Linked DNA regions of Homo sapiens: region 2 is linked to region 1. Evidence: fine-mapped expression QTL. A gene starts in region 1. The other region holds a variant in brackets. All regions are shown on one strand. Distances are between the middles of the regions.

Region 1 (2,906 bases):
GCACTCCAGCCTGAGCAACAACAGCGAAACTCCGTTTCAAAAAAAAAAAAAAAAAAAAGATAATTAATTCTTTCTAGGGTATAGAGTGATGGTTAAGGATCCCAGATCTCTTTAAACCCTGTTTTGCCCCTTAGTGGTCATCAGGACTGGGGAGAATGACTTAACCTCCGCTTCCTTATCTGCAAAGTGCGAACGCCAGTACCACCTACCTTATAGGGTTTTGGCAAAGACGACTCGAGAGGTGAGTAAAAGCCCTGGCATGTGCAAAGCACTGAATCAAAGTGAGATTTGTTATCGAGTATTCGCTGTCAAGTGGTCTGGGCTCCCTTCCCCCTAATGGTGGATCGAGAAACTGCGCCCGAAACTAGCAGTAGGGACATTCCGCAGGTGCAGCGAGTGCGACAGGCTGGGGCCCTGCCTCCAGCGCTCGACCACTGGGATCCTCAACCCCGCGCCCGGGTCACTGAGCCACCCCCTCCCCACGCCGCTCAGCGTCTGATTGCGGCCGCGGCCCCTTTAAGATCTCCTGGCAGGCGGTGGGACTGCGGGCTGGAGGCAGTCGGGGGTCTGCGGGGAGGCCCCGCCTAGGTGGGAGAAGAGGCGGGGCGGGCGGGCTCAGCCCAGGAGGCGCTGACCAATAGGAAACCGACTTTGCAGCCGCGCCGCGCGTTGATTTTCTGTTTCCCAGTCAGAGTGGGAACCGAGAAAGGAAGCGCGCGGGCGGGAAGAAGGGACAGTGGGAGAGCATCGCTCCTGGATCTTCTGTTTCTGCGGCCGAGCGGGGAAGGTGTAAGGCGCGGGCGGGCAGAGAGCGAGCGAGATGGTGCACGGTTCTTGCGTGCGTCTGGGAAAAGCGAGAACTTGAGTTCCTGAAGATTAGTGGGTGTGGCGGGGAGGTCAAGTGGAAGGGGATTATGAAACCCAATCCCCGACAGCGCTCTACCTTGCCCCCTTGGGCAAAGGGGGAAAGGGTAAACTGAGGCACGCAGAGGCGGAACTCTGAAACCAGACCTGAGACCACTGAGCTCCCTAGCCCGTCTTCCCAGAAGGAACTCTGGTGTTCCTCGGCTGTGCAATACCAGACCATCCCAGACATTCCCTCCCCACGCCCCCAGCTCCGCCCTCGGTCCCCTCCCCCCAATGCAGGTCGGGGGAGGAGACGCAAGTTCTGGCGCGGGCGGCGACGGCTAGCCGTCACCACCTCCCGCAAGTGCCAGAGCCGAGCGGACTGCGCGGAGGCTGCGGAGCCGGCGGCCGCGGGAGCTGACCCTGCGGGGTCCCGGGGGGGGAGGGGGAGCCGCGAAGCCCCCACTGAGGCCGCCGCTGCCGGGCCTCCCCTCCCCCCCGGGCGGGCGCCATGCGGGGGAGCCCGGGCGACGCGGAGCGGCGGCAGCGCTGGGGTCGCCTGTTCGAGGAGCTGGACAGTAACAAGGATGGCCGCGTGGACGTGCACGAGTTGCGCCAGGGGCTGGCCAGGCTGGGCGGGGGCAACCCAGACCCCGGCGCCCAACAGGTACCCCCACCCCCAGGGACCTCCTCCCCTCCCGGCCCCGCCCGCTCCCGGTTACCCAAGCCCCTGAACTGGGCGGCCGGAGCCACCAGGGACTACCTGTGGCTGGACTCCAGAACCTGTGTCTCTGTCTCGTTCCCCCTACCCACTCGTGTTTGGCCTAACGGGATCGCTCAAGACAGGGACGCCGAGGCCCCAAGCCTGCAGTTCCGCGGCCAACACCCGATCCCCCTGCTGCGGGGCAGGGGGCGTCTGCCTGGGAAGAGATGGGGGCGCTTTCCTGCCCACTGCCCGGGACACACCCTCCTCCAGACTGCACAGCCCATGACGTGCCCTGCTCTCACCTCCAGGAGACACACCCTCCATCCTCTGGGCACCTACTGCCCTGGCCTGCAGCTGCCCCGATCCCTGTGTTTACATTCCCTGGCCTGCCCTTTCATGGGCCGTTCACGGGCCTGGCTCACTGTCCCGGGCTGCCCCAGCCAGGGACCCAATCCTGTCTGCGGTCACCCGCAGCTGGGAATGCACCTATAACAAGACTTTCCTCCCGCTGCCCCCACCTCCACTTTGCAGGTCCTTCCCACACCTGTAGCCCCAGATCGCTCTAAGAGAACCACAGCAACCCTGAGAGCAGTCCAACCTCCCACTTCCCAAATGGGAAAAACCAAGGCCTCAGCCACTCCGCTTGGTTCTCTCCTGCCCCACATCGCCCAGGGCTTCCTCCAAAGGGAACCCCTGGGTCCCCCATGTGGACAGGGTTTTTTAAGAGGCAGCTGGGTTCAACAGGAATGAGATACCTAAAAAAATAACAAAAACTAAAAACAAGAGACAGCTGGAAGGACAGGCTTTACAGATGAGAACTGAGGTTACCATTTCCTGGTTCTGTGACCTTGAACTGGTGACTTGACCTTGCAGAGCCTCAGTTTGCTCACCAGGAAAACTAGACCACTCACACCCACCGCACAGACCTGTGGTGGCTGTAGGGATCTGGCTGAGAAGTTAGCTGACTGAGGGAGAAGTGGGGTGACGTCTTCTATCCCCTTCCTCAAGGCGCTGGGGGCTCTGGGTTCCTAAGGCATAAGGTGACATGCGTCCCCTCCAGATCAGGAGCAGGTTCCTGGAGCCACCTCTATCCCCTTTCCCTCTGTCAGGGTATCTCCTCTGAGGGTGATGCTGACCCAGATGGCGGGCTCGACCTGGAGGAATTTTCCCGCTATCTGCAGGAGCGGGAACAGCGTCTGCTGCTCATGTTTCACAGTCTTGACCGGAACCAGGATGGTAAGGTCGGGCGACCTGCCTGCAGGCCCCAAGGGATAGGGCTGTGGGGGCCCTAGAGACATCAGTGGGGTTAGAACTGGCAGCGCTAGGAGGAGAGGGGGAGGGCCGCTTCTCCCCG
Region 2 (2,906 bases), 49 kb after region 1:
GCACTTGGCAAAGATGTTCTCTGGTGCTGCTTCTGCCGGGATCTAGAGAAAGGGGAGCCGCAGGGGTCAGGTCTGGGCCCCACGGCAGGGACACCACCCTCTCCCGCTCAGACCCTGGGAAAATCCCAGAGGCATGCACGTGAAGGGAGAGGGGACAGGGTCAGGAAAGCTTGTGTTGCTGACTGCTGTGTGAGGGCGTGCAGGGAGGCCCCACCAGTGTCCCATTGCCTTCCCACGTGAGCCAAGGCTGGGTTCTCAAGGCATTTCCTGGGGGAATGGGAATCCCCCAGGTTACCTGGTAGGAAAGCGAGGACCAGGCCCGGGTGACCCTGGACTGTTAAAGCCAGACTTGTTCCCTAGGGGTTGGGGTGCAGTGAGCCAGAAGCGGGGAGCACCTACGTTTCAGAGCAGGTTATTGCGCTGGTAGGTCAAGACCGGCTCACACAAGGTATAGTGCGTGTCCAAGCGCTGGTGGATGGCCAGCTCCGAGTCGTCTGCCCGGTGCTCCACCTGGCCCCAGTGTAGCACTCGTCGGAGCATCGTCTCCATGGAGCAGTCAAACACGATGACGACGCTGGGGGCCTGGCCCACCTAGGAACCCGAACAAGGGGGCTGGGTGTGGAGGGACCAGGCACAGTGGCTCCAGAACCCCGGCTTCCCCAGAAACCAGGTATCTAGGATTACGTGGGCAGGTAAGAAATAATCAGGCCACCCTGGTCTGTTTTATTTATTTATTTATTTATTTATTTATTTATTTATTTGGGCACGTAAGGAATAATCAGGCCACCCTGGTCTGTTTTATTTATTTATTTATTTATTTATTTATTTATTTATTTATTTATTGAGATGGAGTCCCACTCTGTCGCACAGGCTGGAGTGCAATAGCACGATCTCAGCTCACGGCAACCACCTCCTCCCAGGTTCAAGCAATTCTCCTGGCTCAGCCTCCCAAGTAGCTGGCATTACAGGTGCACACCACCACACCCAGCTGATTTTTGTACTTTTAGTAGAGACGGGATTTTGCCATGTTGGTCAGGCTAGTCTCGAACTCCTAACCTCAGGTGATCCTCCCGTCTTGGCCTCCCACAGTGCTGGGATTATAGGCGTGAGCCACCATGCCCAACCTTGTTTTATTTTTCTAGCTCAAGTTTTACGTATTTACTTTTTGGAGAG[G/AGAGG]ACAGGACATTCACTGCCAAACACACACACACACACAGTGAAGCATCTCGCCATCTCCAACCACCCAGGGTCACTCTCCCTGGAGGCAGCCTAGTTACCTGCTCCTGTGTCTCCTTCGAAAGCTATGAGGCATGCACACTGCAAGCAAATATGGTTCTAATACTTTTTTCCTCCTCTTTTTTTTTTTTTTTTCCTTGAAACAGAGTCTTGCTCTGTCAACCAGGCTGGAGTGCGGTGGCGCGATCTCGGCTCGCCGCAACCTCCGTCTCCCAGGTTCAAGCAATTCTCCTGCCTCAGCTTCCCAAGTAGCTGGGATTACAGGCAGCCACCACCACGCCCAGCTAATTTTTGTATTTTTAGTAGGAACGGGGTTTCGCCATGTTGGCCAGGGTAGTCTCGAACTCCTGAGCTCAGGTGATCTGCCCACCTCAGCCTCCCAAAGTGCTGGGATTACAGGCATGAGCCACCGCGCCCAGCCTAAAAAGTAAAATATTCTTAAGTGACTCAAAAGGATACTTGCACAGAAGGATCAGATATATATTCTTGGATAGAAAGACTCAACATTATAAAGGAGCTGAGTCTTCCCAAACTAGTTTATAATTGTCATGTGATCCAAATGTGATGCAATGGCCAAGCATGATGGCTCACGCCTGTAATCCCAGCACTTTGGGAGGCTGAGGTGGGTGGATCACTTGAGGTGAGGAGTTCCAGCCCAACCTGGCCAACACAGTGAAACCCCATCTCTACTAAAAATACGAAAATTATCCGGGCGTGGTGGTGCACGCCTATAGTCCCAGCAACTCGGGAGGCTGAAGCAGGAGAATCGCTTGAACCCGGGAGGCAGAGGTTGCAGTGAGCAGAGATCACACCACTGCACTCCAGCCTGGGCAACACAGCAAGACTCTGCCTCAAAAAAAAAGAAAAGAAAAGAAGAAAGGAAAAAGCCAACAACCTGTCAGAAAAAAAAAAAAAATATATATATATATATATATAGAGAGAGAGAGAGAGAGAAAGAGTTTACTGAAGAAGACAACAAAACACCTTTCAAACTTTTTGTATTTTTAGAGACAGGGTCTCACTCTGTTGCCTGGGCTGGAGTGTAGTGGCAAGATCATAGCTCACTGCAGCCCTGAACTCCTGGGCTCAAGCGATCTCCCACCTCAGCCTCCTGAATAGCTAGGACTACAGGTATGTGTCCCTGTGCCCAGCTTGGCCCTTAAACTTTGCAAAAGATATTAAAACTCAATTGTAGCCAGAGAAATGCTCATTACAACCACACTGAAATACCACTTCTCACCTACACAGGTTGACAAAAATCCAAAACCTTGGCAGCATGTTCTGTAGGTCTCACTGTAAATGTAAAATGAAGAGGAATCTGGTGATGGCTAGCAAAATTATGCATTTCTCTTTAATCCAGCAATTCCACTCCTAATCTATTTCAAGGATACTAGCAAAAAGGTGAAATGACATGCAAAGGTTATTATTTAATGTGGCATTGTCTGTAGTGGCAAAGGATTGAAAGTAATTTATTGCCCATAGGAGATTAGCTGAATATACAATGGCGTGGCCACACAATGGAATACTACACAGCTGTAAAAAAAGAAACAAGGAATATCTCTTGACACTGATGTGAGATATTCTGGATGGATATATGGCAAAGTTAAAAAAAACAAAAAAACAGGCTGGCATGGTGGCTCAGGCCTGTCATCCCAGCACTTAGGGAGGCCGAGGCG

Evidence for each region. PIP is the estimated chance that this variant, and not a neighbour inherited with it, causes the effect.
Region 2: its variant is the best candidate, but not a certain one, in a credible set for the expression of SLC25A23 in whole blood (INTERVAL, PIP 0.62).

The regions. Positions count from the first base shown.
Region 1 is chr19:6,458,080-6,460,985 of GRCh38, reverse strand. SLC25A23 (solute carrier family 25 member 23) reads left to right here and starts at 1,194. Exons shown (of 10, transcript NM_024103.3): 1 at 1,194-1,513; 2 at 2,662-2,788. The coding sequence starts at 1,358. RefSeq lists silencers at 503-682, 1,193-1,332, 1,383-1,442.
Region 2 is chr19:6,409,406-6,412,311 of GRCh38, reverse strand. It overlaps the pseudogene LOC390877. Among named protein-coding and RNA genes, the nearest start is that of MIR3940, 5.7 kb to the left of the region's middle. RefSeq lists an enhancer at 1-615. The variant G/AGAGG (reference allele first, on the strand shown) is at 1,174.